Homo sapiens: one gene and its partners. The protein of the gene in region 1 interacts with the protein of each later gene in a pairwise test. Each region holds a gene or a part of one and is shown in the gene's direction. Other genes may lie near its edges.

The links.
Region 2: the proteins of FAM83A (region 1) and PLAGL2 interact in binary tests that used the Homo sapiens proteins (3 or more experiments, as listed by UniProt).
Region 3: the proteins of FAM83A (region 1) and GPSM1 interact in binary tests that used the Homo sapiens proteins (3 or more experiments, as listed by UniProt).

What each region holds. Positions count from the first base shown.
Region 1 is NC_000008.11:123,192,621-123,196,366, forward strand, and holds part of FAM83A (protein FAM83A), read left to right. Parts: intron 1-1,403; coding exon 1,404-1,528; intron 1,529-3,746. UniProt on the Homo sapiens protein: Involved in mitochondrial maintenance during adipogenesis. May be acting by playing a role in the maintenance of normal mitochondrial function.
Region 2 is NC_000020.11:32,194,089-32,197,834, reverse strand, and holds part of PLAGL2 (zinc finger protein PLAGL2), read left to right. Parts: intron 1-152; coding exon 153-1,383; 3' UTR 1,384-3,746. UniProt on the Homo sapiens protein: Shows weak transcriptional activatory activity.
Region 3 is NC_000009.12:136,325,514-136,329,259, forward strand, and holds the start of GPSM1 (G-protein-signaling modulator 1), read left to right. Parts: upstream 1-2,025; 5' UTR 2,026-2,182; coding exon 2,183-2,250; intron 2,251-3,746. UniProt on the Homo sapiens protein: Guanine nucleotide dissociation inhibitor (GDI) which functions as a receptor-independent activator of heterotrimeric G-protein signaling.

The sequences.
Region 1 (3,746 bases):
GGCCCTCAGAGTTCTTTTGATCAGTCTCCTCTAGTTCAGGCAAGAGAGGTTCTGTCCTCTGGGAGAACCTCCCAGATAAGAATGAAGCCTCCTCCCTCCCTCCCTTCCCCTCTGCACAGATGCAGCTGAGTTCAGTGCTGCCTCCTGCTGCCACAGGCCTTGGGACCTCTGGCTGCTGGTCTGTTTGGCATGACGTAGATCATACCTCCTTGGCACGAGGCCATTGAAACAGGTCAGAAGTGTCAGAACTGGCCTTGCTTTCATGGCCTATGCTGGCCACACCTGACAGTACTCTGCTCACCATAGGACAATGGTGTCCCTCCTCTCAAGATCTCACAGAGCTATGGAGAAGCCCAGGGGAAGCGGCTGGAGGCAGGACTGCCCTTCCCAGGACCTGCCAAGCCACCAGCAGTCTTTTGAGGAATCCAGACAGTATTCCACCTCCCTCAGCCTTAACCCTGAGACTCCCACACTTTACCCACTCTTCCATTTCTCCAGCCTTCCAGCTGTACGGCGGGAGCAGCAGGTGCTACAGGGAAGACAAGGGATAAATAGAGCCATGGTAGGGTTGCAGACTCACCTTTGCTTAAGACAATACAGGGTCTATTGCTACCTCCACAAAACCACCTCCTCTGGCTGCACCGAGCCTTCCCTCTGAACAGCTTAGGGTCAGGGACTCAGGTCAAGCCACTTACAAGGCAGGGCTGGGCTTGCCTCCAAGTAACTGCCAGGCCACCTGTGGCTCATGGGGGCCTAGACTCGGGGCTCCATAGGCATTAGGCCCTTGCTTTTCTTTTATTTGCTGCCTTATTTGAATTCTACCACCTTCCTTTTTTTTTGTTGCCAGCTGATGCCAGGACAGTGAAGACAATTTAGACAATTCAGCCCAGGGAAAATATTAATATGGTCCAGAATCCCACCAACCAGAGATAACACATTTCCATCTTGATGAACATTCTACCAGACATTTTCATGCACAAATTGTCTTAGTCCATCACAGCTGCTATAACAGAAGTCCATAGACTGGTGGTTCATAACAACAGAAATTTATTCCTCATGGTTCTAGAGGCTGGGAACTCCAAGATCAACGTTCTGGCAGATTCGGCGTCTGGTGAAGCCCACTTCCTGGCTTATAAATGGCTGTCTTCTTGCTGTGTCCTCACATGGCAGAAGGAGTGAGGCAGATCTCTAGGCCTCCTTTATAAGGCACTCCTCCCATTCATGAGCACTCCATCTTCATGACCTAATCTCCTCCCAAAGGCCCCACCTTCTAGTACCGTCACCCTGGGGATTAGGTTTCAACACAGAATGGGGGTAAAGGGAACATAAACATCCAGCCTAAAGCCCAAATGTATCTCTATAAACAGAATTAGGAAGTGACACCTTGACTTTCCCTCCAACAGAACATTTCCATCCGGAGTGTGGAAGGAGAGATATACTGTGCCAAGTCAGGCAGGAAATTCGCTGGCCAAATCCGGGAGAAGTTCATCATCTCGGACTGGAGATTTGTCCTGTCTGGATCTTACAGGTGAGCCTTGGATTCATCTCCTGTCAAGGATTCATGGAGAACAAGGGCTGAGTGAGGTGCAGACCAGCTCCCGCTGCTCAGACACAAACACCCCCAGCAGCTCCCAGAAGGTCTCCCTCTGCCCGGAGCTGGAGCTGCATCACATAGATGGGGTGAGAGGCAAGAAATGTGGACCCTTTCTGGCAAGAATTCCAGGTAGAGAGGCATTTCCAGGTGCCTCCGTTTCCCTTGATATTGCAATAGGACGTAGAATCCTCTTCTTTTCCCTCCTCGGATATCTTAGACGTGATTATAAAGTGATGCAATTTGTTTAGTTGTGTGTGTGCACATCCCATTGCTTTTTTTTTTTTTTTGAGATGGAGTCTCGCCCTGTCACCCAGGCTGGAGTGCAGTGGTGCAATCACAGCTCATTGCAACCTCCGCCTCCAGGATTCAAGAGATTCTCCTCCCTCAGCCCCCCAAGTAGCTGGGATTGCAGGCACCCGCCACCACGCCCAGCGAATTTTTGTATATTTAGTAGAGACGGGGTTTCATCATGTTGGCCAGGCTGGTCTCAAACTCCTGACCTCAGGTGATCCACCCATGTGGCCTCCCAAAGTGCTGAGATTAGAGGCGTGAGCCACTGCACCCAGCCCCGTTTTATTTTTTAAATTTTTATTATTTGCTCAAGCAACCCACCAGCCTCAGCCTCCCAAAGTGTTGGGATTACAGGCATGAGCCCCTGCGCCCAGCCTCAATTTGTGTTTAGACCCTCACACATAGACTCCTACATCCAAATGACTGACCACCCATTTATTCTAACAATGCTACCTTGCCTGAGTCTGCCTTTGAAACTTGACTTCAGAGCTTAAAAGATATTCTTTGAAATGTTCTCAGTGGCGGCGCTAGGGAAGTGGATTTGATGGTGGATTTTGTGAGAGGGATGAAATGAGAGAGCAATTGAGGAAGGGAGGAACAGCCGAAGGTCATTTGGGAACATTTGTTTAGGAAGGTGATGAGTGTGACAGAGAGTGCAGAGGAGGGCAACTGGTTACATCTTTTCTTGCTTCCTCTGCTGCAAACACATAGTAGTGACCAGTGAAATATGAGCACAAACATTGGGATAAGCTGGGAGTGGAAGGCAGGTTTCCAGGGGGTGTTAAGGATGCAGTCTTTCCCCAGGGAGCAGGAGCCCGCAATGCTGTTCCAAAGCTAGGTGAAGCCAACTGGCAAATCTCTAGCCAGAGACAAATGAGCATAAAGGGAAAGAGAGAAGGGAGGGCGGAAAAACCCCTACATTTAAAATGTGCTATCTTTCTTTAGCCTTATTAGTGCCGTTTAGCTGAAATTCCACTTTTAATGATATTAACATTGCTACCTCCAGTCTTCCTTGGGCTTAAATTTGTACAGTGTCTTAGTCCATTTGGGCTGCTATAATAAAATCCCATAGACTGGGTAGCTTATAAACAATGGAAACCCATTACTCACAGTCCTGAAGGCTGGGAAGTCCTAGGTCAAGGTGTGGGCAGATTCAGTGCCTGGGGAAGGCCCACCTTCTGTCTCATAGACTGCTGCCTTTTCACTGTGTGACACAGTGAAAGTGTATCTTTATCCCTTCATGGTAAAAAAAAAAGGTGAGGGAGCTCACTGGGGCCTCTTCTGCAAGGGCACTAACCCCATTCCTGAAGGTTCTACCTTCATGACCTAATTATGCCCCAAAGGCCCTACACACTAATAGCATCACATTGGGGATTAGGATTTCAAATATGAATCTGGAACAGAAACAGACATTCAGTCTACAGCACAGAGTATAACTTTCTCTCCATCCCATTATTTTCAAACTTGCTGATAGATTTTAAGTGTGTCTTTTGTGAACAACATATCATTAATTTTTGTTTTTTTGAGACGGAGTCTCGCTCTGTCACCCAGGCTGGAGTGCAGTGGTGCAATCCCAGTTCACTGCAACCTCTGCCTCCCAGGTTCAAGTGATTCTCCTGCCTCAGCCTCCCTTGTAGCTGGGATTACAGGCACCCGCCACCACGCTCGGCTAATTTTTGCATTTTTAGTAAAGATGGGGTTTTGCCATGATGGCCATACTGGTCTCGAACTACTGACCTCAGATGATCCACCCACCTCAGCCCCCCAAAGTGCAGGGATTACAGGCATGAGCCACCGCTCCCAGCCTCATTAAAGTTTTTAAAAGTATAGTTTTATCATCTCTGTCTTTTAATAGGTCTAA
Region 2 (3,746 bases), on another chromosome or scaffold:
TGTAGAATATAACTGGTTTGGTATTGCATTGCAAGCCTTTACCATGGTTTTTATATCTAGTTTCCTGTTAATGGACACCTTTGGTTGTCCAGTCATCCCTTGTGATCTCCCCTCTTTCTGCTTTCTCCCCTATCCCCTGTCTCTACCCCCAGGCACATGGCCACCCACTCAGCCCAGAAACCCCACCAGTGTATGTACTGTGATAAGATGTTTCACCGCAAGGACCATCTGCGGAACCATCTGCAGACCCATGATCCTAACAAAGAGGCCCTCCACTGCTCTGAGTGCGGTAAGAATTACAATACGAAGCTGGGCTACCGGCGCCACCTGGCCATGCATGCTGCCAGCAGCGGTGACCTCAGCTGCAAGGTGTGCCTGCAGACCTTTGAGAGTACCCAGGCCCTGCTAGAGCACCTGAAGGCCCACTCACGCCGGGTAGCAGGCGGTGCCAAGGAGAAGAAGCACCCCTGTGACCACTGCGACCGGCGGTTCTATACTCGTAAGGATGTACGGCGGCACCTAGTGGTGCACACAGGCCGTAAGGACTTCCTGTGCCAGTACTGTGCCCAGCGGTTTGGCCGTAAGGACCACCTGACGCGTCATGTCAAGAAGAGCCACTCGCAGGAGCTGCTCAAGATCAAGACAGAGCCCGTGGACATGTTAGGCCTACTCAGCTGCAGCTCCACAGTCAGTGTGAAGGAAGAGCTGAGCCCTGTGCTGTGCATGGCCTCTCGGGACGTAATGGGGACCAAGGCCTTCCCTGGCATGTTGCCCATGGGCATGTATGGTGCCCACATCCCTACCATGCCCAGCACGGGCGTGCCACACTCCCTGGTGCACAACACGCTGCCCATGGGTATGAGCTACCCTCTGGAATCCTCACCTATCTCTTCCCCAGCTCAGCTCCCTCCAAAATACCAGCTTGGATCTACCTCATACTTGCCCGACAAATTGCCCAAAGTGGAGGTGGATAGTTTTCTGGCGGAGCTTCCTGGAAGCCTGTCTCTCTCATCCGCTGAACCCCAGCCCGCCTCACCTCAGCCGGCGGCAGCTGCGGCCCTCCTAGATGAAGCACTGCTTGCCAAGAGCCCCGCCAACCTCTCTGAGGCCCTCTGCGCTGCTAATGTGGACTTCTCCCACCTACTGGGCTTTCTTCCACTCAACCTGCCCCCGTGTAACCCACCTGGGGCCACAGGAGGCCTGGTCATGGGCTACTCCCAGGCTGAGGCACAGCCCCTGCTTACCACTTTGCAAGCTCAGCCTCAAGATTCCCCAGGAGCTGGGGGACCACTGAACTTTGGGCCTCTGCACTCCTTGCCTCCTGTCTTCACGTCTGGCCTGAGTAGCACCACCCTGCCTCGTTTCCATCAAGCATTCCAGTAGCCCCCACAGAGGCCCTCAGCTCAGTTTTTGGCTCTGTTATGGAGCCTTAGTACCCACCCCGTCTGTGTCCCCCATGAAGGCAGCTGAGCTTTCAGAGCTGGGTTCAAAAAAAAAAATTCCAGTGTCTGTATACAGGAGCACTTGGTTTGGGGGTTCAGGCTCTAGGATCGATTCCAGAAGGAGCCTTGAGCCCCAACCCCGTGAAAAGATCTCATACCGTAGGACTTCAGGTATTATTTACTTTTATTTTTTTGACCTGAATCGGGAGCCACACTTGGCCCTCTTCCTCTCCAAAGCGCCAGAACCTCCTTCTCTTTGGAGAATGGGGAGGCCTCTTGGAGACACAGAGGGTTTCACCTTGGATGACCTCTAGAGAAATTGCCCAAGAAGCCCACCTTCTGGTCCCAACCTGCAGACCCCACAGCAGTCAGTTGGTCAGGCCCTGCTGTAGAAGGTCACTTGGCTCCATTGCCTGCTTCCAACCAATGGGCAGGAGAGAAGGCCTTTATTTCTCGCCCACCCATTCCTCCTGTACCAGCACCTCCGTTTTCAGTCAGTGTTGTCCAGCAACGGTACCGTTTACACAGTCACCTCAGACACACCATTTCACCTCCCTTGCCAAGCTGTTAGCCTTAGAGTGATTGCAGTGAACACTGTTTACACACCGTGAATCCATTCCCATCAGTCCATTCCAGTTGGCACCAGCCTGAACCATTTGGTACCTGGTGTTAACTGGAGTCCTGTTTACAAGGTGGAGTCGGGGCTTGCTGACTTCTCTTCATTTGAGGTCACATTTTTCCCCCGTGGGGAAATAAACTGACTTTGGACTGCTTCAGTCTCTGCCATCTTCCATGACTGCATTTGTTCCTGCCTGCCTCGGCGGTATCCACAGAAGACAGGCAAGAGGATTGGAGCAGTTTTCTCACAGGTCTGCAATTCTGTTTTTCTCCAAGTACATTATGACCCCCTCATCCTTCTCTTGAACTGGAGAGGGGAAGAAATGAAAGGCATGCCCACGTCCGTCACCTCCCCATCCCCTAGTCCCCACCTTGAACATCATGAGCTGTTGTTATTAGTCTTGGAAGCAGAGTCTGGGTTGGTGTGGATAGCAAAGGAGGAAGTCTGAGCCCCTCATTGGTCTTCCTCCCACCTGTCCCTTTTCCGGGAAGTTGTGGAATTGTTGGAAGAAGAGTTTGCAGAAGGTTAGGAATGGGTAGATAGCTAAGTCCTAATCTATGGGTACATTGTTGTGTCCCAAACCAAAATTTTCCTTATCCACAATGTCCCTTCTGTCTCTTCCACTTTACAGTGGACTCGGCCACTGTGCATAGGCTTCTCTGCTCTCCATCAAATCACTTCCACTTTCCTGTGCCCCCACCCCCGCCTCCAGTTTTCCGCTAGTATCCGGCAAGGTTTCTTGCAACAAATGATTAGTTCTTTTCTTCTGACTCGTGGGGCTCCCTGCTGCAGAGAGCACAGCCCTTGCCTGGAGCCCAGGAACCCCATCCTTGCTTCATCTCAGTTCTTCATGGGCTTCACTCTTCCCACTCACGGAAGGGAGGTAGCTCAGGGACCTCCACTGTGGGACCCTTGAGACGCTTCCACTCTGATTCAGAAACACACTTCTACCTCTTTACTGTTAACTCTTAACAGATGCAGTCAGCAGTTTCTGGGCACTTCTCTCAGTAGGTGCCTCATGCTGACTTCTCCAGTAGGGTTTCAGGACAAACTACCAAGGAATTGCCTCAGCCTCCTACCAGTCCTCCCTCACCCACCTTCTGTCTAGGTTCACTTGGTTTGTCATCAGGAACTGAGCAGGTCCAGGACTCAGCTTTCTGCTTCAGCCTAAGCCAGTACTCCTTGTTTGAGGTAAAAGCCTTAAAATTTAGCTCCCTAGCTCTTGATTAGAAGCAATTTGGAGTAAGTGTGTTTTGATTTAGGCAGGGTAGCTTGGGATACCTTTTTAAAAACACCAGATATTAAAATGTCTGGCAAGGTTAGAATCAGACTAGATGATTTGCTTCTAAAAATTAGTTTCAGTGAGTCCCAGGGACTAATTAAGGTTTATTTTAAAAAGTGTCTACCTTGGTACGCAGCCACCTCCTGCATGCTGTGCATGTTATTGGGACTTGTATTATAGGTGATGGTATGTGAGAATCCAGTTGGGACTCGCTGTTGCCATCCTCTTTGTTGTATCTGGTTTTCATCACTAGACTCAGCAACCCTTCTCACCTTAACTGCCACCTTCCCTACACTCTCAGTTTACAGAGGCCACTGGGCCTCTGGCTGCAGAATACAAAGTCCCGGGCTGTTAGAGGAGTCCTTTCCTCTCTGCCTGCCCTTTCCTGTCCCTCCCTCGAATT
Region 3 (3,746 bases), on another chromosome or scaffold:
ACTGTGTGCCAGGCACATGGACAAGCACCGCAGAAACCCCACGCCTCAGTGACCCTCCACACCTTGCGGGACGGGCAGCCCTCAGGTGACAGAACCGAGGCTCAGAGAGGGAAAGCAACTTGTGCCAGGTCACACAGCCTCATAGCCCAGCTCGGCCTAACAAAGCCAGAGCCCTCGGGGGTGCAGGTTTCCCCACAAGTTCTGATATAATGTTGGGGCTCTCCCGGCCCAGGGACACAAGCTCCCAGCTCTCTGCATCAAGGAAGGAGACCAGGAGAAGCTCCCCCAGCAATGACAGCTACGAGGCTGCAAATCTCTCCCTCCCTCCACCATTTGTGCAATGTCTTTTGTCCCCACTTCTCTTCACCAGCCTCCCACCACTAACCCAGGGGACCCACAAGGGGCTCACAGTGTTGGTGTGGACCCTCTGTGGGCCTCCTGATGGCAGCAGCGCCTGGGGAAAGAGGGCTGAGCTGAGGCCTGGCACAGGCAGGGCCCCCAGCAGCCCCTGCCCTTACAATGGGATGCTGGCTCAGGTGCCCGAAGCCCAAAGGAGGTGGCCCGGAAGGTTGGAGCTTCAATCGAAGGCCTGTTCTCTGCCCGCAGCCAGGCCCAGGGCTGTGGCAAAGGAGGGTGGTGCCCCAGCCAACACCACTGTCCCTGCCGGCCAGCAGCCACGGCCCCGGCTGGAAGGGAGCAAGGCTCTGCCTGGCTTCTGTGGTCTTTGGGGGAGGGCACGTGGGCCCAGCAGGCAGCTTGCGCTGCGCTCAGGGCACAGATGGTTCTCATTCCCGTTGCCTCCCTTACACAGGAAAAACAAACCAGCCCGGGGCCAACAGACCCCTTTTTAACCTCGTGTTTATTTTCCTTCCCATGCTTGAAAACGCTGACTGTCCTGTGGGCGGCAGCTGCTGAGGGTCTTGCCAGGACGGCACTTTCCTGACCTCAGGGCAGCTCTCCCAGGGAGGGGCTGGGGTGCACGGAGGGGCCCCGAAGGAATGCAGCCCATTTCCTGCTCCTGGACTTCTCCGAGTCATACCCGGGGTCGCAGCTGCCTTTCAAGGGCCTGGAGTCTCCTGACACCACCGGAAGGCCCAGGATGCTGTCGGGGGCAGGACAGAACCCGGGGAGGCCGGCTGTGGGCCTCGCTGGCTGCGGAGAACCCCCCAAGCCATCGGGAGCTGAGGGTGGGTGGAGGGGAAGCCACGTCACACCACATAGGCCCACAGGGCTCCAAGAATTCAGAGGAGGAGGAGGAGGCGGTAGGGGCTGGGGTCCCGGGACCCCGGGTGGGCACAGCCTACTGTGCCACCTGCATCCTCCCTAAGCCTGCACAGTGCCCAGGAGGAAGGAAGGGGCAGGCTGCATCCCCATTCCGGGGGAGCTTGGGAGGGGAATGTGGCCACCCAGGGTCTCAGAGGTGGGGGGCTTACCAACCGTCCCACAGGCCAAGCAGAGCCTGTATTTGTCATCGGTGCCCCAGGTTTCTCTAAAGCAGGCAGACAGCATCCCCACGGCCTGCGCCCCATGGCCCAAGGCAGAAGTTTGGAGAAGGGGGCAAAGCCACGTTGGGGCTGCACAGAAGAGGAGGGTAGGACCCCCGAGGCGTAGGGCGCCCACCAAGAAAGGCAAGGAGGCCTCAGCAGCCCCTCCCCACGTGGGTGAGGCTGCGGGGCTCACCAGGCGGCCTGTGGATGAAAGGAGCCCAGAGGCCAGTGTGGCTGCACTGTGACCCAGGGACCCCCGCGGGCCCTCAGAAGTCCCCAGGGGACCAGCAGCAAGGCCAGGCCCAGGCCCTCTCCCCTGCATTCCCTGGGGTGGGGTGGGCTGGGGCCCACACCCCCTCCCCCCTCCCCCCTCCCCGGGGACTGCCCGCCTCACGGCGCCCCTCCCCCCGCGTCCGCCCCGCCCCCCGCAGAGGGAGGCACGCGGCGGTGGCCGCCCGGTCCGCGCCCCCTCCCCGCGCGGGCGGCGGTGACATCACGGCCACGGCGGCGGGAGGGGCGGCGGCGCCCCGCGCACATCACTTCCTCGGCGCCTCCCCGGGGGAGGACGGGCGAACGAGGCGCGGACGGACAGGCGGACAGCAGGGCGGACAGCAGGGAGGACAGCAGGGCGGGCAGGGGGCGGACGGCCACGGCGCGGGGGGCGCTCCCGGCTCCCGCTCCCGCGTCCCCGACCCATGGCGGGCCCGGCCCCGCCCGCGGCCGACGAGCTCCCGGGCCCGGCCGCCAGGCGCCTCTACTCCAGGTAGGACGGGCCGGGGCCGGGGCCGGGGCCGGGGCTGGGACCGGACCGGGCCGGGTCGGGACGCGGGGGAGGCTGCAGTTGGGAACAAAGGCAGCTCTCGCGGGCGCGCAGCGTGGCTGAGGACGCGCCCCTCCCTCCAGGCCGAGCCCAGCCCGGCGTGTGCCCGCGTGGGCGTCCCCTGAAGCCCTCTTTCCCCCAAGCCAAGGGGAAGGGGGTGGGGGGCCGGGGGGCTGGAGGCGGGGTGGGCAGCTTCTCCAGCCTCACTCCCCTGGCACCTGGCAGGGGCACCGTGGGGTGCTTCCCTCCCAAGCCTGGCCCTGCCATGCCCGGGGCACTCAGGGGCATCATGGCCAAAGAGACCTGGCTGCTCTGGATGGGGCTCTGCCCCTCACCAGCCCTCCACGAGCCCAGTGGGATCCAGCTGGGTTGGAAGGGAGCCAGCCAGGTGGGTGTGTACCTGCCTGAAAAGGCATCTACTCTCCGGGCACATTCCTGGGTGATCCCAGTGACTGGGCTCTGTGCCCCACGCCTTTGGGGATGACAGGGTGGCCCTGCCCCAGGTGGCATGCCTGCCTGGTGACTCCCAATGTCCCCCCAGGGGCTGCCCTGGGCCCAGCCGGGCAGGTGCCTGGAGCCCCAAGCAAGGCTGGGTGGTACCAGGCCTCAGGCAGAGCCACACGAGCGTGAGGTCCAGGCAGGGGCTTGCGAATGGGTGGCAGCCGTCAGAGGCAGGCCTGGCTCCCCAGAGCGAGGGACACTATTGTCCTCTGGACATCCCTAAAACCTGGTGACCTCCCTGATAGGGGTCCCAGCAGCTGATCCCGGGGGGCGCCTAGCCTGGCCCCCAAGGATTCTCTGGCCCCAGCCAAGCAGCAAGCCTCTGCCTGGGGCACCCGAAATGAGGTACTGGTGGCGGCACGGCGGACAGAGGCCTTGCTGCCTCCGGTCTGCTCTCTGCTTTGGTCCCAGACACAGCCCCATTGTGCCGTCCTGGATGGAGCGCTGAGCCCCTAGCCTGGCTCCTGGGCCCCACGCAGGGGAGGGGCGTGAGGGTGATTTTGCTGGCAGCTGCTGCCAGGGGCCTGCCCTAAAGGATTTTCAAGGGTTTCCTCCGCTGATCTGATCGGCTGTGCAGGGCCGCATGTGCTCCAGGGCGGCCGTGCTGTGAGGGGGATGGATAGCAGCCCTGGCTGGAGTGAGTTTGAGTGTGAGTGTGTGGAGCTGTGAGAGAGTGTGTGTGTGGAGCTGTGAGAGACGGGTGTCCAAGACCTTAGCCTTGGGTGAGGCCTGCACAGCTGACCATAGAGTTGGGCATTCTCCAGGCTACAGCTAGAAGCCTGGGGTCCCCTGGGGACACGCCAGGCAGGAGCCAGCCCCTGGCAGGGGCAGTGCTCAGGGGGACCACTCAGAGAGACCCCAGACCCAGCCTTGCATCCCCCTAAGCAGGGAGTCCAGTTGAGCTCCAGGGTGGAGTCAGGCCCAGACTTGGGGGAAGC